Linked DNA regions of Homo sapiens: region 2 is linked to region 1. Evidence: fine-mapped QTL for protein levels in blood plasma. A gene starts in region 1. The other region holds a variant in brackets. All regions are shown on one strand. Distances are between the middles of the regions. Region 1 holds the start of CHIT1 (chitinase 1). Region 2 has its middle 19 kb from the start of CHI3L1.

Evidence for each region. A credible set is the group of variants that fine-mapping cannot tell apart. PIP is the posterior inclusion probability: the model's chance that the variant is causal. Protein levels are from the aptamer-based SomaScan assay of Sun 2018.
Region 2: its variant is the best candidate, but not a certain one, in a credible set for the plasma level of the CHIT1 protein (Sun 2018, PIP 0.90).

The regions. Positions count from the first base shown.
Region 1 is chr1:203,225,133-203,237,072 of GRCh38, reverse strand. CHIT1 (chitinase 1) reads left to right here and starts at 7,400. Exons shown (of 11, transcript NM_003465.3): 1 at 7,400-7,461; 2 at 8,511-8,540; 3 at 11,203-11,404. The coding sequence starts at 7,437.
Region 2 is chr1:203,199,313-203,211,252 of GRCh38, reverse strand. No RefSeq gene overlaps it. Among named protein-coding and RNA genes, the nearest start is that of CHI3L1, 19 kb to the right of the region's middle. The variant C/G (reference allele first, on the strand shown) is at 5,711.

The DNA of each region.
Region 1 (11,940 bases):
AAGGCTGAGAGGTAGGCGGGTGGCCTAATGGAAAAACACACAAACTGACTGTATTCTACTATTCTCACACTCACTCTCCATACTTCATTTCTGAGACCAGAGGTGTGGGGATTTCTCTCCACACCCAAACAACTCTCCAGCAGACACCAACAGGGTATCCTATAATTTAATTCCATTCTGACACTATCCATCTGGAGTGAGTCAGATCTACAGGCTGAGGGCTCAGTCCCACAAGGCTGCCCCCACTTCAGAGGCCAATCACAAGTCCCAGGTGGTGAGCTGTGCTTCAATCAAGCAGCTAAAAACTGGGGTTCCCATGACGCCCTTCCTCTGCTCTTCCTCTGCTAGAGCAGCTCACAGAACTCACAAAAACACTTACTTACATTGACCCATTGATTTAAAGGATATTACAAAGGATACAGAGGAGCAGCCAGATGGAAGAGATGCATAGTGCGAGGAAGATGGGAAGGGGCTTGGAGCTGCTCTCCTCTCTCCATGTGTTCAGTAGCCTTGAAGCTCTTTAAACCCCATGGATCATGGATTTTGTTTGTTTGTTTGTTTGTTTGTTTGTCTGTAGAAAGGGGGTCTCACTAGGTTGAGACCTAGTTGTTCAGGAGGTCAAGGTTGTTCAGGCTGGTCTCAAACTCCTGAACTCAAGAAATCCTCCTGCCTCTGCACCCCAAAGTGCTGGGATTTCAGGCATAAGCCACTGCACCCAGCCTAGTTAATGGACTTTTATGCAGGCTTCCCCACATAAGCATGATTACGTGGTCTTCAGCCCCACTCCCCTTCCCAGAGGATGGGGGGTGGAGCTGAAGGTTCCAAACTTCTCATCATGGCTTGGTCTTTCTGGTGACCAACCCCCCTCCAGATGCCCACAAAGAGGCACCTCTTTGGAACAAAAGATGCTCCTAGTACCCAGGAAGTTCCAAGGGCTTAGGAGTTCTGTGTCAAAACTAGGGTCAAAGGCTAAACATTAGAACAAGAGATGCACCTAGAACCCCTATTTCTCAAGAAATTTTAAGGGTTTTAGGAGCTCCGTGCCAGAAATTGGGGACAAAGACCAAATATACATTTCTTATATCACAATATCATAGTGGGCCAGATCATGCAGAGAGGTCACATTAATTAATTAATTAATTCAATAGATATGGATTAAGCACCTACTATGTGCTGGGAAATATTCTGGGTACTAGACAAAGAGGACTAAACAAGAAAAGTCCCTCCTCTCATGAAGCTTACATTCTAGTGGTAGGAAACAGACACTACACACAAATGAATGAATGAATGAATGAATTCAGCCATGAAAGTACTTAGGAGAAAATAAATCATCAGGAGAGAACAGAGAGTGACTTGAGGGGAGGGCACTACTTTCTATGAGTGGTCAGGAAAAGCATGAATGAGGAGAAGGAGCCAGCTGTGTGAAGATCACAGAGAAGAACATTGTGGGCAGAGGCAATGGCAGGTGCAAAGGTATCAGGAGAACCCGCCCCTGAATATTCAACGTGGGCCCTTTTCTATTTTTCCTAAGTGTCAGTCGGTCTGAGAAATAAAGGGAAAGAGTACAAAAGAGAGAAATTTTAAAGCTGGGTGTCCGGGGGAGACATCACATGTCAGCAGGTTCCATGATGCCCCCCAAGCTGCAAAACCAGCAAGTTTTTATTAGTGATTTTCGAAAGGGGAGGGAGTGTATGAATAGGGTGTGGGTCACAAAGATCACATGCTTCACAAGGTAATAAAATATTACAAGGCAAATGGAGGCAGGGCGAGATCACAGGACCGGGGCGAAATTAAAATTGCTAATGAAGTTTCGGGCATGCATTGTCATTGATGACATCTTATCAGGAGACAGGGTTTGAGAGCAGACAAGCGGTCTGACCAAAATTTATTAAGCAGGAATTTCCTCATCCTAATAAGCCTGGGAGTGCTACGGGAGACTGGTGCTTATTTCATCCCTTATCTACAACAGTAAAAGACAGATGTCCCCAGAGCGGCCATTTTAGAGACCTCCCCCTAGGAATGCATTCTCTTTCTCAGGGATGTTCCTTGCTGAGAAAAAGAATTCAGCGATATTTCTCCTATTTGCTTTTGAAAGAAGAGAAATATAGCTCTGTCCCACCTGGCTGTCAGGCAGCCAGACCTAATGGTTATCTCCCTTGTTCCCTGAACATCGCTGTTATCCTGTTCTTTTTTCAAGGTGCCCAGATTTCATATTGTTTAAACAATTTATGCAGTTAACGCAATCCTCACGGAGTCCTGAGGCAACATACATCCTCAGTTTACAAAGATGGCGGGATTAAGAGATTAAAGTAAAGACAGGCATAGGAAATCACAAGAATATTGATTGGGGAAGTGATAAATGTCCATGAAATCTTCACAATTTATGTTCAGAGATTGCAGTAAAGACAGGCGTAAGAAATTATAAAAGTATTAATTTGAGGAACTAATAAATGTCCATGAAATTTTCACAATTTATGTTCTTCTGCCATGGCTTCAGCCGGTCCCTCCGTTCAGGGTCCCTGACTTCCCGCAACATCTCTCCCTTTCTTTTTATATAAATGTGCCATGGCGATGAAGGCTTGTTCATTCTCTCGATTTTGATGCAGGATTCTTTGACTTGTCTGACACACTAAAGACAAGCTGGTTAAACAGAGAAACATAATTCCAAAATTTACTAGAGTGGGGCCTCCAATAGACTTAATCAAAGTCGTGGGGTTTAGTCCATAAAGATTTTCTGCCACCTGATCTAACGCCTCAGCTCCAGGCACAATGGATAAGTGAGCCTGAGAGGCTTCAAAAATTTGTTTTTTTAATTTAGTTATGTCCAGTGATAAATTATCTTCCCTGCCAAGAAGGTGTCCTTTGAAAGAACATTGTCCTAATGAAAGAATAGAGTTAGAGTGTTCTAGAGGTAGAGTTAAGGAGTTGATATTTTATTTTAAGTGGGAACCATTGCAAGGTCTTAGCAGGAAAGCAACAGGATCTGATTTAAGTTTCTCAAAGTGTACTCTGGCTGCTGTGTGGAGAATGGATTGCAGAGGCAAGAGAATTAGGAAGGAAGGCAGGTAGGAGGCTCTTCTGGGGACAGGGTGGGAGTTGACGGTGGTTAGGAGGTGGAGGAGATGGAGCAGGAGGCAGGATGTCTAATAGGTCCTGATCATTGAGGGTGAGGAAAGGGAAGGATCAAGGACACTTCCTGGGTGACTTGGAGACCCGGATAGGTGGTGATGTCTTTTACTGCTAAGGGGAAGAACACGGTGGGACGTGGGAAGGAACAGTTAACAAACATTAATTGAAGACCCCCTGTATGCTTGGTGCTGAGGGACACATAGAGAGGTGTGGAGAGAGGCCCCACTCTGCCTGGCTATGGACAGTCCAGCTACAGAGATGAGATGCTCACATGAAGCAAGAGAAAAAGGTGTGATACCAACCATCAAGATGCAGTCCCATGAGATCTGGCTGGCGTCCTCCCACCTACAAAGCCCTCTCACACATTATCTATTCGATCCACATCATTACCAAATAAGATAGGTAGTATTATCCCCATTTTACAGATGAGAAAACCAAGGCTTGGAGAGGCTGTGACTAGCCCCAGCTCAGCCAGCCAGGTTGGATGCAAATCAGCAGAAGCTTTAGAATTTCTATACAGGCATCTGCTCTGCAGTAGGGTGGGACGGGGACTTGCTTTGAAGCCTCATTTTATATCAAGCACACTGGTTTTACTTGGTTTGGGCTTTGGCAGTGGCTGAGAAAGGGGTGGGAGAAGCCAATGGGGCTGGAAAGGAGAGTATAAAATCTATGAAAGTAATTTATTGGTGATATCCATTGAGATACACCCAGTTCTGTCTGTCTCCAAGCCAGGGTTCTTTCCTATTCTGGATGGAAGGAGTTGTTCCAAGATAGCAGAAGGTAGTATGGAGTACATTGACTGTGGAAGAGGCAAGGCTTAACTCAGAGTGATCTCTGTAGGACTTGAGGGCCAGGGAGGGCAGCCCCAGGAGGGACACAATTTAGGAGCAAAGGTGTGGTGGGCTGTTAATTGAAGTTTGCTGAAGGCATCAGAGACCTCTCAGTTCTACACATGGGCAATCTGTACTGGTGGCTGGGACCTGCCTACTTAGGTGGGAACTCTGGGTCAGTCCCTGGGGAAGGCTCCTCCCCAGCTTTGGTGGACATGGGCCTGCCTTCTGCTCCCAGGTCTCAGCCTCCAGGCAGGGACTTATTCCTTGAAATCTTGCAATTCAGGTCTGGCCATCAGGTGAGCCCAGGATGTGCCCTACTAGACTGAGGCATACTGTAAAATAAATCCAGGCTGGCAAGGCATTGTATCTCTCTCCTCTCCCTCCAGCCATGTCCAGTGCCCTTTTACACAGAGCCCCTCAGCAGAGATCACCCCCACCTGCCTACCTCAACCAGTGGTTCTCAACCGACAGGACACAGAGTTTTTAATGATGTCCCACTGTCCCTGCATGTATCGTGGGCAGTTTCCTCACTGAGAGGCTCCATCAGTGAACATCTGGTGTGTTTGTTATAACTTCCTTCCCTTTCTCTCTTTGTCCAGCAACCTACTTATTCTCAAAGCTCTGTTCAAGCATCACTCCACTGGCTTTCCCACCCCACCCTGGCTGGTGTTTCTCCTTGAGCTCCTTTGCTCCCTGTGCCCACCTTCATTTACCACGTGTCATTTCTGCTGTATATGGTGTGAGGGGCCTAACTTTGATTCTTTCCAGATTGGTAGACAATTAAGTCATTGGCATTTATAAAACATCTTTTTCTTATTCATTTGAACTGCTACCTTCATTGCACACACCCTCTCCATATATGCTCAGACCTACCTCTGTTTGTCTGTCCTGGTGGCAATTCCATGCTATTTTAATCCCAATGGAATTATAATAAGTTTTGTATAGTGTGTCACCATCATTACTGGTTTTGTATTTTAGTTGACAAAAATTGACATTTGTTATGATATTGTTTTCCCGTGCAAGAACATGTTCAGATCCTATTGCAAATTTATATCCTGTGGGTAAGTTTTATAGATTCTACTATTAAACTTATTATTGTTATTAAATTTATTTATAAATATTTTATAGATTTTGACACTTCTGTGAATCAGACATTTCCTTCACTTCTATTTCTAATTGGTTATTGCTAATGTAGAGAAAAGCTATTCATTTTTGTACATTCACCTTAAATCCAGCCATATTACCAAACTCTGTTATTATTTTTGATCTGTTTTTCTAGAAAACCTAAAGACAATAGGGGATGGGGCAGTGTTTGGAGAAACTCAGATTCTGGGCACTGCAGTGCATGTCCTCCTGGGGACATGAGGCATAGCGAGAAATTCATGAAACTGACAGGTCAGTTGTGTATATGGAGGCGGGGGCGAGATAAGGTGGCCCCTAACTCTCCAGAGAAGCCTCTCCTCCCCGAGGCTCAGGACCTCCCAGTCCTCACTCCTGCATCCCACTCTCACTCCCCCACCACCAAGGAGCTGAGGCACCTCTGCACATCTCAGGTGACCCTGAACAGGCTCTTTTGCAGGATCCCCAAGAGAAAGGGCTGACCACAGCAGAAACAGAAGCCATGACTGCAGCAGGGAAAGGGAGGACTTAGGGCTGGTCCATCTGAGTGCTGAGGTCCAACACTCTCAGGGGCCTCGAAGAGGTTACTAGAGCCCTCTGACACCCCTAGACCAGCAGAAGTGGCAGCACTTGGCAGAACCAGGAATAATAGCAGCCACCATGGAGTGCGTTCCCAACAGTCCTCTGAGGATTCCCCTTTACAGATGAAGAAACTGGAGTTCAGGGAAATTAAGGAACTCACTTCAGTTTACACAGATAGTAAATGGCAGAGGAGGAATTCAAACTCAGGAACCTAACTCCACAGCCTGCCGCACCCAATATTCCCACGTGGCCATCTAGGCCATTCATGTTAAGCCCACCGGCCAAAGACTGGATCCCCTAGAAACTGCAGAGCTTTCTCAGGGACCCTGGAGTTCATGCATACACCAGACATTGTCTGCAGACATTACAGTAATATGTGCCCACTTGGGTCCTGTGGTGAATTGAATGGTGACCCCCTCCCACCCCCCGCAAAGGATAACTTCACCTGGAATCTCAGAAGGTGACTGTATTTGTAATAGGGGTCTTTGCAAATGTAATGAAGGTAAAGATCTCAAGATGAGATCATCTTGGATTAGAATGTCCTTCTCAGAGACAGAAAGGAGGGGACATACAGAGACACAGCGAGGAAGGGCGTGTAAAAATGGAGGCAGGCAGAGGCTGGAACGATGCCGTTGCATGCCCAGGAATGCCACAGGCCATCCGAAGCTGGAAGCTGCTGGGAAGTATTCGCCCCTGGAGCCTTCGGAGGAAGCATGGCCCTGCCAACTCCTTGTTTCCAGGCTTCTGACCTCCAGAACTGTGAAAGAATAAACTTCTGTTGTTTCAAATCACCTGTTTGGTGGCCATTTGTTACAGAAGCTCTGGGAAACCGACACAAATGTCCACCATTCTTCTGTTTTTTTTTTTTTGTTTTTTTTTTTTTGATGGAGTTTCACTCTTGTTGCCCAGGCTGGAGTGCAGTGGCGCGATCTCGGCTCACCACAACCTCCGCCTCCTGGGTTCAAGCAATTCTCCTGCCTCAGCCTCCCGAGTAACTGGGATTACAGGCATGTGCCACCATGCCAGGCTAATTTTGTATTTTTAGTAAAGATGGGGTTTCTCCATGTTGGTTAGGCTGGTCTCGAACTCCTGATCTCAGGTGATCTACCTGCCTCGGCCTCTCAAAGTGCTGGAATTACATGTGTAAGCCACCATGCCTGGCCCAAATGTCCACCATTATTATTCTTCATAAGAAACATAGGCATTTCAAGCCATTACCAAACTTATAGTCACTATTTATCATTATCTATTTTTCTCCATCAATGGATATGCAACTATTACTATCATGAAAAGTAAATTATATTTGCAACCCCATTATCTTCTAGATGGAGAAACAGTTTGAGAGAGGGCAGTGGAGAAGCAAGAGAGCTGGTCTGGAACCCAGCTGCCTGACTCGTGAGTCATTTCTCTTCCTCCAAAGCCCTATTAAGTCTGGGGCTGCTTATGGTCCTCACCAACTACACAAAGAAAGTCAGGGTCATGCTCATCCATCAGGAGGTTCAGGGCCACTTCCCGCTTTCCTCTGTTTGGCAACACTAAGAGTCACCCTCTGATTGTTCCAGAAAAGCAAGAATTGCTAAAGGCCATTGTGTCAAGTTTGCCCAATTCATGCTGCTTGACATCTTACCCCTCCCCACCCTGCTCCCATCCCCCCCACCCAGTGCCCCTGATTGCAACACTCCTGGCTGGGGTGGGACAGGGTGGCCAGATAAAAGCAGAGCAGGACCTGGAAAGCTGGTTTGTATGGGCTGCAGCCTGCCGCTGAGCTGCATCATGGTGCGGTCTGTGGCCTGGGCAGGTGAGCCGTCGGATAGTGGGCTGGGTCTCGGGAGCTGTGGGGAGGTGGGGATGTGGATGTTCAGGGACCACTTGCTACCATTTGCAAGGAAGCAGGAGGACTCAGGAGAACTTCAGAGGGTCATTTTATCCCTCTCCATGCCTCCTGGCTTGCAGTCCCTTGATTACCTTTCCTGTGGGCTCCCCCTTAGGCTCTTTCAGCCCAAGAGACTTCATGTTGCAAGGGAAGGCTTTTCTCAACAGGCTGAAGATGACTTGACTTTCCTCTCTCTGTCCTGAAAGCCCAGAGTCAATGAGGCCCCTGCACTGGGTCTTTGTGTCTTTCCCATGTTCTTAGGTCCCTCCTGTTGGCCTTATCCAAGAAGCGCCCACTGCCAAGAACCTCTTCTCCAACCTCATATTGTCTGTCCTGCAAGAGGGCAGCCTGGGGCCAAGATCCTGGGCATCCTTGCAAATTTTCATGGAGGTTCTATTAGGTTGACAGAGAAGTCCAAGGTCACCAGGTGAAAGAGATCTCTTCGAAGGAGTCCTGTCAGACCCTAGGTCTCCAAGGCTGTGGTTGCCTACCACAGCCAGGTAGCGGAAAGGCAACAGGAAGCCATAAACGATGGGAGCAGAGGCACAGGCCCTCCCCAGGAGATGAACTCTCTCCATGCAGCCCTTCCAGATTGATTCTTTCTAGCCCCAAAACAGGCTTGTTTCTTGTTCCGAAAGAGAAACTATCTCTCTAAATAACTCACAAGTCAGCAGTTTTTCCACAATCTTCCTGAATCCACACTGCCCTTTACTGAGGTATAGAGAGGGGGCAGCCTCAGCCCATGGAACTTTCCATCAGCTTCTAGGACCAACCCAGGCCAGGAAGAGACCCCCGTGGTCTGGTCTGCATGAAGGGATGGGCACAGTGCCCTCCTGGGTCCCTTCTGAAAGGAGAAAGCTTGATTTGTATGAAATCAGCCCTCCCTGACCACCTCCTGTGCTTCCGTAAGCTGTGGGGCCTGGGAAGGTGAGAATGGCAGCATAACCCTGGCCTTCTCTCTTGTGTTGCTCCAGGTTTCATGGTCCTGCTGATGATCCCATGGGGTAAGTAGCCTCTTTCTTGGCTGCCTCAGCCCCTTCCCTGGGCTCTGCTTAATGTCCCAAAACACCTTCCCTGCCAGACCTCCCCAAGAGCTCCAGATTTCAGTGGGGACTCTCTTCCAAAGCTCAGACCCCTGCAAATGTCCCCATCTGCTACCAGCCCTCCCAGGAAGGCTCTTGCCTCCTTATCCATTAGCTGAGCTCCTGCACATCTGTGGGGCCAGCTTGCGCATCAGCCTCTTTCAGGGCTTTCCTTTCCTGGGGTTGCTGGCTCCCTCCTCTGCACTCTGTGCTCTTGCAGCACCTGTGTGTTTTACAGTACAGTACTGCCTCTCATTATTGGCTTAGGTGTCTCTCTGCACCAGTCTCAGACTCCAAGTTGCTGCAGGTAAGGAACCTAAGTCTCATCTGGTTCAGCATCCCCAGCCCCTTAGCTCTGCGAGGACAACACACTTGCTTCTGGTCTGTTGAACTGATCAGATGTGGAGCTTGAGAGAGGCAGGAGGGAGCTCCTTGTTGTGTCAAATGGAAAAGAGACCTGGGGGACCTTCAGCAACTTGAACTCCTGGTCCCCGTCTTGTCCCACCCCATTCCCTGGGCATCAGTGGCCTGGGAATGCTGGCCTCTCAGAACTTGTCCTGCGACTGTGCCTCTCACGCTGGGCTGTAGCATTGGAGGTACATTTCCCTCTCAGCCTCATAGGATGGAACAGCCGGGGGCACAGAAACAGCAAACATGGGGAAGATGAGAGGTGGAAGATTTCTCAAAAAGCTTTAGTCCAGGCTACTTCTGGGCTTTCTGCAGTATAGTAATAATAGTAGGACTTTGTGTGGACTAAGGGTTAATATATGTGAAGCACCTAGAACAGAACTTCTTCCTTGCAGTGTTCCTCCGAGTGTTTTACATATATTAACTTTAGCCCACACTGGGGTCCTGTGACACACATTGTGGAAGGTCCAATGGTCTCCCCGTTTCACACAGGAGGAAGCTGAGTCGCACAGCGAGTAAGTTGCAAAGTTGGGATTTCAACCCAGACACTGACATGCCAGAGTCCCTGCTGTTAACCACTGCACTTTATTTTCTCCATAGTACAGAAATTCATAACAATATTTGATATGCGACAGCATGACATGATAGAAAAAGAGCTTCCTGGCTCCTTCCTACATGGCCTGGGGGATGAGTTATCTGGTTTCATCCCCTCCTTCCTTTCTTTTCCTTTGGGGAGTTCACCAATTCTCCTGTATCATTGCAGGCTACACCCCAGCCCCACTAGCAAGCTGCACTCCTGGGTGACCTCTGGTTAGAGACAGTGACCACTCCGGGGCCACGTGTATGCCCAAGGTCAGCCCTCCATGCTCTCGGGTTCTAGTTGAGGCCTGCCTGAGCGGTCTCTTCCCAAAACTCTCCTATAGACACTTTGCACCCCTCCTCTTCCTCGTCCCATCCCTGTCCATGTGGGCATTGGAGGGGGTACAGACAGACCCTGCTGGGGCAAAGGGAAGTCCCAGGTTCTAGACACCAGCCACAGGCACGCTCCAGTCCAAACTCACTGCTCCATCAAGATCTTGGCATAAAATGTTGGCTCATACAAACCACACCATCATAGATTGAGAGACTGGAAGAGACCCCACAGACCACACAGTCATTATCAGATGGGGCCGGGATTGAAGATGAGATAGACCCAAAGTCTATTTTTGGCAGATGCTGGAATGAAGACTAGCATTCTTGCTTCCTGGTGTCCTGGTCAACCCTGCACAGGGCTGACCTCAGTGGGGGTCATCACCACCGAGCCCTCACTGGGAATAGACCATCCCACCCCTGCAAAGTCTTTTCACACACTGTAGGGTACTCTAGAGACAAGTACCCTACAGTGTGTGGGGTACTTAGAGACAAGATGCCTTCTCCTAGATAAAATTAGCTCTATTAGAATCTCAGCAGTGATATTGATAAACGTAGATTATCTACAAGGGATAACAAGCAAATGCAAATGGCTTTAATGCAAGACTAAAGAAACATAAACCCAGGCCTGTAACTGGGGCCTCCTCTCTGCTACTTATCTGTTTGCATTTTAACGAAGTATTCTGAGGTATTCCAAACCGTTTTTGAAAGTTCTGCCTGCCTTCCTTCTGCAGATGAGCATGCCATGTCTAATTCCCTCTAGGCCTCATGTTGGGGCTGCCTGGGGCTACCTTCTGTCAGGTTTCAGGGCCTGGAGGGGAGACCCTAACTGGGGATAGGGAGACCTGCCTGCCAGACCCTGATCCTGGGAGCTCGGACTCTGAGACTAGCAACTTTCAAGGATGTCAAGGAGTCATGAGACTTGGGTCGCAGCACCTCTGCTCTGCCCTCTTAGCAGCCATGCTGATGGGGACGGGCCCCAAGCTCGTGAGCCTCAACTTGCTTCCCGGGAAAAGAAGGCTTAGAAGATGATGGTCCTGCCCACTCAGTGTTCTGAGGATCCCATGTCTGGCCTCTGAAAATGCTTTCCCAACTGCCAGACTCCATCCACACAAAAGCAAATGCCATTTCTGCCTGTCGGGTCCCTCCACTGACTCCAGGTGTAGAAGAGGGAGGTCCAAGGACATTGCCTACCCCAGATGGAGGGTGACCAGTCCCCAGAAGGTCCTGCTGACAGCTATCCCTTTTCTTTACTCCAACGGGCCAGGCTCTGCTGCAAAACTGGTCTGCTACTTCACCAACTGGGCCCAGTACAGACAGGGGGAGGCTCGCTTCCTGCCCAAGGACTTGGACCCCAGCCTTTGCACCCACCTCATCTACGCCTTCGCTGGCATGACCAACCACCAGCTGAGCACCACTGAGTGGAATGACGAGACTCTCTACCAGGAGTTCAATGGCCTGAAGAAGATGTGAGCCAAAGCAGAGGAGCAGGGTGGGTGGGATGTGGTGGGGTGACAGATAACCTCCTCCCAGAGCCAGACACCTCTCCAGCACTAAGGTCCTGCCACAGACCCACTGTGTGGCTTTGGGCAAGTTGTATCACCTCTCTGGGCTCTCCTGTGCTTAATGAAAGAGGTAGGGTTTGCTTAGGGGATCCCAAAGGTCCCTTCCAGTTTAGGTCTAAGTGTGATCAGGATTGTGAGACTCTTTCTGTCTCCCATGAAGCCCCTTCCTCATTATGAAATTGATCCACCCTTCAGCTCCAGTGTTCTGGGCGCCTTCACAAAGCCTCTTGAGAATCTGCCCCAATCCTTGCTTCCTGAGCCCACACAGTTAGACAGGTGGTTCTGTGAGTCAGGAACGTGACTTCCCTTTTCCAATCTACAGCTGTCCCCAGAATGCCTAATACAGTCTCTGCACATAGGCACTTTCACACGTCCCCACCCCTGTTGTTCCTCCCCACTGTAACATCCCTGCCAGGGTGCCCTGGGAGCTGGCAGAGTAA
Region 2 (11,940 bases), 26 kb after region 1:
ACCTTAATTATAAACTAGGTCATGTAAGCTTGCATGGCCTTTGAAGACAGGCACAAATACTGCTTGAACTGTTACAGTGTGTTTGACATTGAGCAATACAGTTTGAAAGGAATTTGGGGCTATTTACTTTTTGGTGGCTTAACCCACTAATGTCTGGCCACCTTCCTTAACAGTGATGACCACTCTTCACCCATAAAGAAGAGGCCCCTGTATTCTTCTCTCTCATAGCATTCATTGTTACATCTGACACACCTGCTGGAACCCCAGACAAATTTGGCTCCCCCCTTGGCTGGTCAGATCGGGGACCAAACTGTCCATCACACCCTACCTGGAGCAGTGAGAGCTGAAACTCTTTATCATTTTAATTTTGTCTCCATTGTAAAATATACCACATTATACCAAATAGTGTTCAAAACATATATGTTCAGGAACTCTTATGAATCCCTCACCCAGGTAAGGAAACAACATTAGCAGCCTCTGATGAACAGTGACTGATGTGCCCCTCCCTAATCCCATAGCCCTCTAACTAGATTTTGGTTATTCCTTTTCTTGTTTTTCTTGTAGTTTTACCAGCTAGGTGTGCATTTTTAAATAAAATTGTTTAGTTTGCACTAGTTTTGAAACTTACATAAATGGAATCACACTGTATGGTATCTTCTGTGGCCCAATGCTCCACATGACTGTAACTCATTTTCACTACTGTATAGTATTCCATCATAAGAGTATGCCATGACTTACATATTTCACTGTCAACAGGCATTTGGGTTGTTTCTAGATTGTGGCCAATGTGGACAATATTGCTATAAACACTCTTGAGGATGTCTCCTAGTGCATATGTGTAGAATATGCCTAGGAGTAGAATTAATGGGATGTGAATTATGTGCTTGTTCAATTTTACCAGGTGCAGGCAACGTGTTTTCCCAAAGCGGTTGTGTAACTTTTCCCTCCCGTCAGCAGAATTCTCTTGTATCCCATCCTCACCATTACCATATCATACTTTATACCAGTTTGAGAGATGTAAAATGGTATCCCGTTAGAGTTTCAACTTGCATTGTCCTAATTACTCATTATAGTTTCAGCATCTTTTCCTATACCTATAAGCAATATGTGTTTGTCTTTTGTGAATAGTCCAATGTGTCTCTTGTCATTTTTCTATTGGGTTGTTTATATCTTTCTTACTGAAATGTAGGCGTTCTTTCCATGCTCCGAACACAAATCCACTCATGACTGCAGGTTTGGCTAAATCTTCTGGGTTGAGGCTTGGCTTTTCATTCTCCTTAGGTGCCTTTAATGTAGTCAGATTTACCAATCTTATTCTTTATGGTTTTTACTTTCTGTATCTTGAGAAATTTTTCTCTAGTCTGAAGTCAAGAGCTATTTTCCTATATTATCTTCTAAAAGTTTTGTAGCTTTTTTCCCACTTAAGCCTTTAGTCTTACTGAAATTGCCATTTAAATATGCTGTAAGGTTGTATCTAATTTTTTTTCTATACGGATAACTGGTTATTCAAGCACTATTTATTGAATAATCTATCCCTTTCATACTAACCTACAATACCATCCCTGAAACAAATTATGTTTCTGTACACACATGGGAATCTTTCTGTTCCATTGGTGTATTTTTCTTTTGCTGCCCCAATAACTCACTATCTTAATTACTAAAGCCTTATAATAAATCCTGATATTTATTACAGCAAATCTTTATACTGTGTTCTTTGTTTCAGAAATGTCTTGGATGTTCTTAGCTCTTACTTTTCCATGTATATGTTAGAATTATATTGCCAAATTCCATTAAAAATTCTGTCCAGGTTTTGATTATAATTGCACTGAATCTATAGATTGAGAAGAATTGGCATCTGTATGATATTAAGTCTCCTTATCTAAAAACATGGTATATCTGTTTAGTTGTCTTCTACTGCTTTTTTTAATGTTTTCTATTTATAATAGAGGCAGGGTCTCCCTATGTTGCCCAGGCTGGTCTCGAACTCCTGGCCTCAGCTTCCCAAAGTACTGGGATTACAAGTGTGAGCCACTGTGCCTGGCCCTAGTTGTCTTCTTAAATATATTTTGATAAAATTTTATAAATTTTTTCTTAAAGGTCTCATACATCTTTTATTAGATTTATTCCTAGGTATTTTAAATTTTTGATTACGGTTATAAATTTTATCCATGGTAAAAATTAAATTTTCTAACCAACTGTTGTTGGTGTATGGTAATGCCACTTTTGTATGTTGATGTTGTATCCAGCAACTTTTCTAACTCTCTGATTAAGTTTGATGATTATTGTTCTGCAAATTCTGCACAGCATTCTATGTAGGTAGTCATGTCATATCATCTGCAGAAATAAGTTTTGTTTCTTCCATTCTAAACCATATAACTTTTGTTTATTTGTCTTGCAAACTGCTCTAAGACATCCAGTACAGTGGTGAGTGTAAGCAGTGATAATGGACATTTTTGTCTTGTTCTTGGCCTGAAAGAGGATGCTTTCAATATTTCAGTGTTAAATATGCCATTTATTGTAGGTTTTGCATAGATGCCTTTAACAAGACTAAAGAAGTCCTTCTACTCCTAATTTGCCAGGAGTTTTTATGAGAATGGATGTAAGTTTTGTCATATGGTTTTCCATTTATAAATTTTTGCTTTTATTCTGGTAATAAATCATATTCATTTTCCCCTGTTAAATTCATCTTACATTTCTAGGATTGAGCCAGCTTGGTCATGCTATATTAATTTTTTTTTGTAATTTGCTGGATTAGTTTTTTTTTTTCACATTTTCACACATATGTTAGTGAGTAAGATGGACCTGCATGTTTTCTTTCTTACACTCTAGGAAGTCCTCACCACCTCCAGCTGTTGTCCAGGCCAATAATAAACTGATCTGGGGTATCAAGATTCTGGGATATCAAGCTGGGAAGGTCCCCTCATTCTATTTTTTGATAGATGTGTTAAAAGGACTTATCTGCTCCTTGAACATTTGGTAGCAGTCACCAGTAAAGCCATCAGCTCGATGCTTTTTTTAAGGATAATTTTTAACCACTGATTTAGTGTCTTTGTTGGCTACAGGGCTATTGCATTTTCTATTTTCCCTCTAGTAGGTAGAAAGCTGAAACTCTCTGTCCCTTCTTAGGCCAAGATCCTCCTCTTTCTCCCCAAATGGTACTGAGGGTGGTAGGAAGTGGCATTAGAGCTTGCTTTTGTCTTACTCAGAACTCAGCATCTCTGTTTCCTGTGCAAGAGCCCTTATTTGACATAAAATCAAGGTAGTGGCTAGTGCTCTCTCCCTCCCATCTGTCCCTCTTAAGTGTCCCTGGAGAGGGATAGAGCAGATGCCATAAACCTGTGGTTTTCCCAGAAGTCGCTGAGTGACACCAGATTGTTGAAAGTGCCACGAATAATTAAGAACCTTCTGGGGAGGTTGTTCATCTTGAGGCACTGCCCTCACTTCTCTCACTGAAGGAATCCACAGATTCCCCCAGGGATCTCCAGAGGATCCAGGCTCAATAAACCTGCTCCCTCCATTCTTCCCTCCTTCTTTCTTCTCCCCTGGCTCCATGTCCCCTCCCACAGGTACAGCCTTTCCCTACATTGTGTTAAAGCAAACTAACTACGGCCTGAGAAGGACTCCATACTTCCATATTTGGGTCCTTGTGGATGAACTGTAACCTAGCTTAATAGTCAGACAAAATTGAAAACCTAACTTAGTAGTGTGCACCTGTAACAATAGCTGAGTGTTGGCCAATCCCAGCAGCCATACTTCAATTACTGATATGCTGCTGAATGTTCAAACTACATTCAAATAAGGCAAACGCCAAGTTGTAACCAATCTCCCGGTTTCTGTGCTTCCCTTCCAATTCCTGTACTTCACTTTTTCTTTTTTGTCTGTAAATTTGTTCTGACCACGAGGCACCCCTGGAGACTCTGAATCTGCTGTGATTCTAGGGGCTGCCCAATTTGTGAATCGTTCATTGCTCAATTAAACTCAATTAAACTCCTTAAACTCTTTCAGCTGTAGTTTGTTTTTTGTTTGTTTGTTTGTTTGTTTTGTTTGACACAAAGTCTCACTCTCTCGCCCAGGCCGGAGTGCAGTGGAGTGATCTCAGCTCACTGCAACCTCCGCCTCCCAAGTTCAAGTGATTCTCCTGCCTCAGCCTCCTGAGTAGCTGGGATTACAGGTGCGTGCCACCACACCTGGCTAATTTTTGTCTTTTTGGTAGAGGTGGGGTTTCACCATGTTAGCCAGGCCGGTCTTGAACTCCTGACCTCAGGTGATCCACCTTCCTTGGCCTCTCAAAGTGCTGGGATTACAGGTATGAACCACTGCGCCCAGCTGAAGTTTTTCTTTTATCAATTGTAAATGCCATTGAAGATGCCGCTTTTCCTACAGTATAAAGCTCTCACATGGGAAATGCATGTCCCTTGACTCTAGGGCCTGGTGTTGCTGAGTTTGGGGGGAACTGAAGGGGATCCTGGCTAAGAGAGCAGCTCCATCTGAGATGCAGAATGAAAAAGGTGACAAAGCAGTAGACAGGGGTGCGTCTGAAAGGTTGGTGGAGCTGGGTGCAGCTGCAGGGTCTCCCGGCAACCCCCTCCTCCACACCGTGCTTTTCCTAGGCCTCCTCCCCAGATGCAACCTCCTGGTCTAGGGTAGATTAACTACTAACAAGCGCTCTTTATGCTCATTCAGTCTCTTCCTGTTAGTAATGCCCATTTCCCCTTGTTCAGAGCTTGGTGCCAAGAGAAAGTAGCCAGATCCCTCTTAATTAATTCAGGCATTAAGGCAACAAATGTATTTCAAATATATCTCAAGGAAAGAAACAACCCTTCCAAAGGCCCACATTGACATTTGTCTTGGGCCTCGCCTCATTTTGCTCAGGGTGGGAGTGAGGAAGGGAGAGCATGCAGACATTCCTTTCATTCCTTGGCCCCCACCACAGGCATGTGGGATCTTGGGGGCTTAGGATGGCCCCAGCCCCACCCACTCCCTCCTCCAGGGTGTCCTTGCCATTCCCAGCTGTCACCCGGGCCAATAATAAACTGATGAGGCCAGGCAAGCAGAAGCCCAGGCTTAGGTGAGGGCACCTCCCAGTCCCCCTACCCACTCAGCAGCTCCACCCTTGGAGATCACACTCCAAGGGGGGACAGTAAAGGGGTCACCTGAGAAGGGGGGCATCTAGAGGGAAGGGACAAGGACCCGGTGTCCACAACTACTGCCATTACCACTGCTTGTCCTTGGCCTTCGTCTGAAGCAGAGCAGCAGGGACACGGGGGAGCCAGTCCACCCAAACCAGCCCAGACCCACCCGCTGGTGCCCTTATTTCCCTAAGCTCCTTCCTGGCATCTAGAGTAAGATGGCCAAGCTGTAGCCTTAGTTCGTATGACCTTACTTGGGCCTCCTTAGAGGTGGAAACCTCCACCCTCTCCATGTTTAAAGTTAGCTCTCTGTATGCCACATGTGGCTTATCTGTGCCCACGGTTAAGTCCTGGGCTGCCTTCTGCTGCACAACCCAGAGCTACTTCACCCAACCCTGGAGTATGAAGGGACTTGGCTCCATAACATGAGCCAGGACAGGGCTTCATGTTCGACATCTGGGACCCCTAAAGTCAGAGTACAGAAGGAATGTCACCCCACCATCTTCCTACTGCCATCGCCTGGACGCAAATGTGACTTGGTATGGAGGGAAGATCAAGAGGTCTTTGCCCCCTGGACAAGT[C/G]ACTTCTCATCCCAAGTCCTCTGTGTCCCATTGTACAGTCGGCAGGTTGGACTAGATGACCTACTGGCCACAGCTGGCCACTGCCAGCCACTGGGTACCTCTTCTCAGAAAATAAGGAAAGCAAGGGAGGGTCAGAGTCTCCACTTGGCATCAAGCATCACTTCTTCACCCTGATCCCCCATCCAGAAGACTCCTTGCAATATCATCCTGAGCTAAACATGGGGGACTTGCTCTATGGCTTCCTCCTCCTGACACACGTGTATGCATGTGCACGAGCAGACGCACACACACACCCCACCCTTGTGCAACACGCATGCTTGCAGAGGAAACTTGTCCTTTCTTGGCCAAGCACAGGGGCCTGGAACAATGGGAGGGAGGGTGTCTTACATTGCACTTCACACCAGAGCCTGTCCTTACAGATTCCTCAGGATCTCAGTCTGCACTAGCTGACCCCACAGGCCTTCCCTGCCCTTCCACCTTTCGGGTTCCACATCTGCAGCAACCACTGAGCTTCAGCCAGCCAGCGGTGGAGCCAGATGCCCAGGCTGTGCTCCAGAGCATCCCTGCAGTGACTCAGAGGCCACTGACCTTTGAACACATCCAGACCTCCCCTCCCTGCCAGTGGAGAGATCTCCCAGCACACCAGACCCTAAATGCCTTGAGACAATCTCTTTCTAATCCCTTAATCCAGTGGTGGGAGCCATTTTCTATTAAGGGGCAGTGACCTCAGTGGAAAATCATAATCATACAAGGGCCACATCACTGTATAAAATTACTGAAGTTTGATGTGGCTGCTGCTGTTTCTTTTTAATTAGGAAAGATGTATAAAACATTCAGAACACCTGATTTTTAAAGGAAGACAAAACCATGCAAAATAAACATGATCAATATGTTAGAATATGTTTTCCAAATTGAAGGCAGTTGAGATGGTGTGACTTAAAAGAATGTAAAGGAAAGAAAGAGTGAGAAATTGTGGTAGGAAAAGGAGAAAGACTAGAGAAAAATAAGGAAAACGTGAAGGGCAGGAAAGGGCAGGCCAGTGGAAAGGAGAGGGAAAGAGGGTGATGAGGTTAGGAGCAGCAAGGAGGGCTCGTTAGGCCCAGCTGCTGGGTCATTACTTTCTGCTCCATGCTTCTGGTCAACCCTGATCTTGTAAGGCTGGTTTTCAGATTATTACCTGGATTGTAGGCTACCATTTACACAAAGTCATTTGGTAGATGCTCATTTCTATTATACCATTTCATCTTTGCAAGAACTCTAAAAACTAGGCTTGAGAAAAGTAAGACCTAGAAAAGTTGCCCAAGCTCACACACCATAACAATTGGCCAGGACTCCAATTCATCCGCAGATCAAAGCTTCTGCTGTTGATACTATACCATTTGTATTGTCTACCTTGCCATTATCTTCCTATTGAACTGTTGATTATCTTTGTTCATTGCCCCCTTGATCACCATGAGGCAATGAACAAATGATCCAGCTACTCTTTCCTTCTTTCTGTTTTCTGAACCCATTAAACTCGTCCCATCTCTATTCCCCACCTGCCCTGACCTCAAAACTTGGTCTGATCTATTCTTGCTTCCTGGGCTTGGTTTTCCATGCCCAGATCTTCCCATAGCAGCCCAGCTTACCCTTCAGGTCTCCCCTTAAGCATCACTTCTTCAGAGAGTCCTTTCAACCACCTCCCTGTCACTCTCTCACATCACTCCAAATTGTTTATTATCATGGCACTTACTGCTGCGCGGTGTTTTTTGTTTTGTTTTGTTTTTTGTTTGTTTGTTTGTTTGCTGTTGACTATCCGTCTTTCTGAGCTAGAAGAGAAACTCCATGTGACCAGGACTTTATCAGCCTTGTTTGTTACTATATCTCCGGAATCTAATACTACTTCTGGCAAATAGTAGATGCTTAATATGTGTTTGTTGAATGAACGAGTGAATAAATGAACTGCTCTCTATCCCCTTTATAGACTCTGCTCCTAGCTGTTAGTGGTACTTTTTTGTACAGAACCAACAAATCAATCCCTAGGTTGCATTTCCCATATCAATCAGCTCAAATTCTCCTTCTACAATTCTAATCAAAACTCATCCATTCCACAAGCATGTCCAAGCTCTTGGCTGAGACTGTGGATGAAGATAAATGAGATTTGACTCCAGATTCAAGGCCTGAGCTTCTGGAGTTTATAGAGTCTAGAAGAGAGGGGATAAGGCATGCCCACAAAGTATTATAATTCAAGATTAAATGAGTCATAAACAATTAAAAAAGAACAAATTAAATATGTTCAGAGGAAATTTCCTCTGGTTGGATGATCTGTGGGGACCCTAACGTAAAGAAACAACAGAACTGAGATCGAGTTTTGAATGAGGGTTCAGACCTCACTGCAGTCTCAGGCAGTCAGCCATGAGACTCAGAGCCATGACCTCAGATTGAGGGCCAGGGTGTGTCCAGACTGGACCAGGCACGCGAAGACCCGGGAGGCAGGAGGGGATAAGGATGGAGAGAGGCTGAGGCCAAACGGTCCAGGTTTGTGGACTGCACATAGCCATGGGAGAGAGCGAACTGAGTGGGCACCATGACCCAGGCAGCAATGTAAACCAGCAGCCCAGCCGCTGCACTTGCAGCTGACAGGAGGGAAGGGGGTTCGTGCAGGACCCTCACCCACAAACCCAGGGGGTTAACCAAGTTTCTGTCTAAGAAGTTCAGCAGGGCAGATTTCTCTCCTTTCTTAGTAATGTGAAATGTAAGCTGGTCAACAGGCATGATTTCTCAACAGCAGGAAATGAAGCAACTGTTTTGGAGACAGCATCCCTCCCTGATGGAGGGCAAGGCTTCAGGCTGTGGTCATTTTCCTGTCAAGTTAATCCTAGTTGTAGAAAACACATCTCCTGAGAAGGCTGGCCTGTCAGGGAAGGGGTGGAGACCTGGAGGCCTGGGGTAGGAATGGGAATGAGGAATGAGCAGGGCTCCATGTTGTTACTCATGAGCGGTAGGGGCTCTGCTGGAAGAAGATCGGGCAGTGTGGAGAAACTGGAGGCGGACTAGGAGGTGGGGTGGGAGGCTGGCGGCGAGCGGAAGGGAAGGATGGGCAACAAGCTTCAAGGGGACTTGGAGGTCTCAGGGAAGGATGCCAGACCTGGAATAGTTCCCAGCCTCTGCCTCTTTTCTTTTTTATTTTTCGACAGAATCTTGCTCTGTCGCCCAGGCTGCAGTGCAGTGGCGAAATCTCGGCTCACTGCAATCTCTGCCTCCCAGGTTCAAGCGATTCTCCTGCCTCAGCCTCCCAAGTAGCTGGGATTACAGGCACCGACCACCATACCCAGCTAATTTTTGTATTTTTAATAGAGACGGGGTTTCACCATGTTGGCCAGGATGGTCTTGATCTCTTGATGTCGTGATTTGCCTGCCTTGGCCTCCCAAAGTGCCAGGATTACAGGCATGAGCCACCGCGCCTGGCCCTCTGCAACTTTTCTCTCCATCTTTCTGAGGCCCATGGCCCCTCCCAGACTCAGTCATAGCCCTAGCTTCTGGGACCTGGGACCACAGTCATTTCTTCTAGTTCCTTCTCCTGGGCCCATCTTTACCATATTATATTGTAAGTATTGGCTCAACAACTGCCTTCTACATAGACCCTGGGCCCATTGAGGGCAAGGGCCCTGTCCCCCTCCTCTGCTGGCCCTAGCACCTGGCAGACTGGGGCTGAACCTGCAGGGCCTGTGGATGTCGGGCTGAATGATATAGTTGCCGTTGTACCTTCTGGGTCTCTTCCACCACCTGATCTCTAAATGTCAGGATGCCTCAGGGCTCAGGCATGGGCTTCTGCCCTTCTTGCTCTACGTGAACTCATCCGTTCCCATGGCTTTAAATAGCATCTTGACACCAATGACTGTATCCGCAGCCTAGACCTCTCCTCCAAGCTCCAGATGCATGTATCCACCAGCCCGCTTGCTCTCTCTACCCAGATAAGGCATAAACAGTTCTTTAATATGGCTGAGACAGACCCCCTACTCTAAAACTTATCTCCACCCCATGAATTCCTCACATTAAACAATTAGCACAACCTTGTCCACCTTGCTAAAGGTAGGACCCCCTGGGTGGTTCCTGGTCCCTCTATTCCCTCATCCTTTTACATCCAACTCATCTGTAAGTGTGCGGATGTTCCCTCCAAGGAATGTCCATAGTCCACCCTTCTTTCCACCTCCACGTCCCCAGCCCAGGGCAGGCCACCGCATCTCTTGCCTGGACCTCTTTAACAGCTGCTTATGTTCATGCCTCTTCCACTCTTGCCATACCACAAATCTATTCCCTACAGAGCCACTAGAGTGACTTTCCAAAACATAAACTCTATCCTGGACTACCTGCTTAAACATCCAGTGGTGTCCCATTGCACAGAGGACAAAACCCCTCTGTGGTTTCCACAGGCCCCAGGACACAGACCTGCCTCTCTCCCCGGGGCCTCTTGTCTCTCCCCACATCCCCAAACTACTCTAGCCAGCTGGTCAGCTTGCTTGTGCTTTTCTCTTTTTTTTTTTCCAACACACTAAGCTCTTTCTCACCTCCAGGACTTTGCATATGGTGTTCTCTGCCTGGATCATTTTCTCTCTTCTTGAGGTAGCTGACTCCCTCTCATCCCTCAGATTTCTGCTTAAGATCACCTCCTCGGAGAAGCCTCCCTGACTGTCCTAACTAAAGGAGGTTCCACTCCTCACTCTCCCCACCCTAGCCCAGGACTTGGCACCTAATAGGGGCTCAGTAACTCTTTCCTGAAAGAATGAACACATGCTGCCCTTAGTCCCTGGCAGACTCCTGTGAGCTCTTTAGTTTATCCTTCTAAGCCACCAAAGATTCACTCTCCTTTCCGCTTATTTTTACGTTTTCTCAAAACTTTCCTCATAAACACCATATTGTTGAGTTTCTTTCTCTCCCTAAAATAGCTGCAGAACTGGACAAAGACTGGCTATCTGCTTCCTAGCTGTCCCTTTCAGTTTCAGGGTTTATGTGCTAGTCATTGCAGGGGAGCAGTGGGGAGAATGGAAAATTACCAACAAGGAGAAGTGGCAGAATCCAGGGACTGACCGTGTTCTTACACCCGTGGTCCTCAGTCTATAGTTAGCTTCTGACTTCCTTTCTTGGCAAGATCTATACCAGCTATCTAGGACAGTCCCAGTTTCAACTGTTCTGTCCTATTGTCCCACTGTGTTTCATGAATTTTCTTACAATATTGGCTCTCTCTCTTTTTCCTCCCACTCTCCTTTTATCCCATGAGGGCAGCCTTACTTAAACAACCCTCGCACTCAGTGTTGAAAGAGCTGAATTCAGTTCAAGTCTTGCTCAACCACATAAAATGTGCACGACTTTGGGCAAAGCACTGATCCTCTCTCAGCTTCCGTTTGCTCACCTACTGAGAGGGATAAGGCCAACACCTCCATTCCAGCATTCGGCAGGGCGGGTTGTGACTGGAATAGCATGTGTTGGGCACTTGGCACCCATAGCAAGTCTCCCTTGCCCCTCAGGATGAATAATGGAGTGAATTAGTCTTTCAGCCAAAAGACTCTGGGCTCCAGAGAGTAATGTAATGCTTTACCCAAACAGTGGAAGTGTGGAAGTGATGTGGATGTTGGGGGACTGTTATATTCTCTCGGTTCAGCTGTGGCCTGAGTGATGAGTCAGGTCATGTCTGTAGATAGAGAGCTCTGTCTCCACAAAGAGGAGGTGCCCAGCTCCAATCCCTGGGGAAAGGTTGTATCTTTATTGGAAACCAGAGCTCAGAAGACTAGCCTTAGGGAGATGGAAGAGGGCCCCGACTTGGGAGCAGGGGTGCATCTTTCAACAGGGGTCCCTAAACAGATGGCGCCCTCCGTATGGAATCAGGAGTCGAGCATAGCTTGAACGTCTGACTGTCCAGGACCCACCTCAAAGCGTGCACTTCCCCTGCCTCACCCTCAAGCCTCCCCTGAGTCTTATCTGAATGCCTTGGCTCAGGCTCTGCTTTTCAGGGGGAGGACTGTGCCACCTCCTGGGCCAGAGTGTTAAGGGGTGACCAGTGCCCCTGAGACCACCTTGGCTACAACCTCTCAAGGGAAATGTGCATCTTGGTGAATCCGAGGGACAGGGTAGGGATCATGCAATCCAGCTGCTTCTTTCTCCCCACCAGGGAGGTCTTCATCCAGTGCCAACCTGGGTAGGTCTGCCTCGAGCATGTTTTTATTGAGGAGCTGGCACTTTCTTTCAAATGTCAG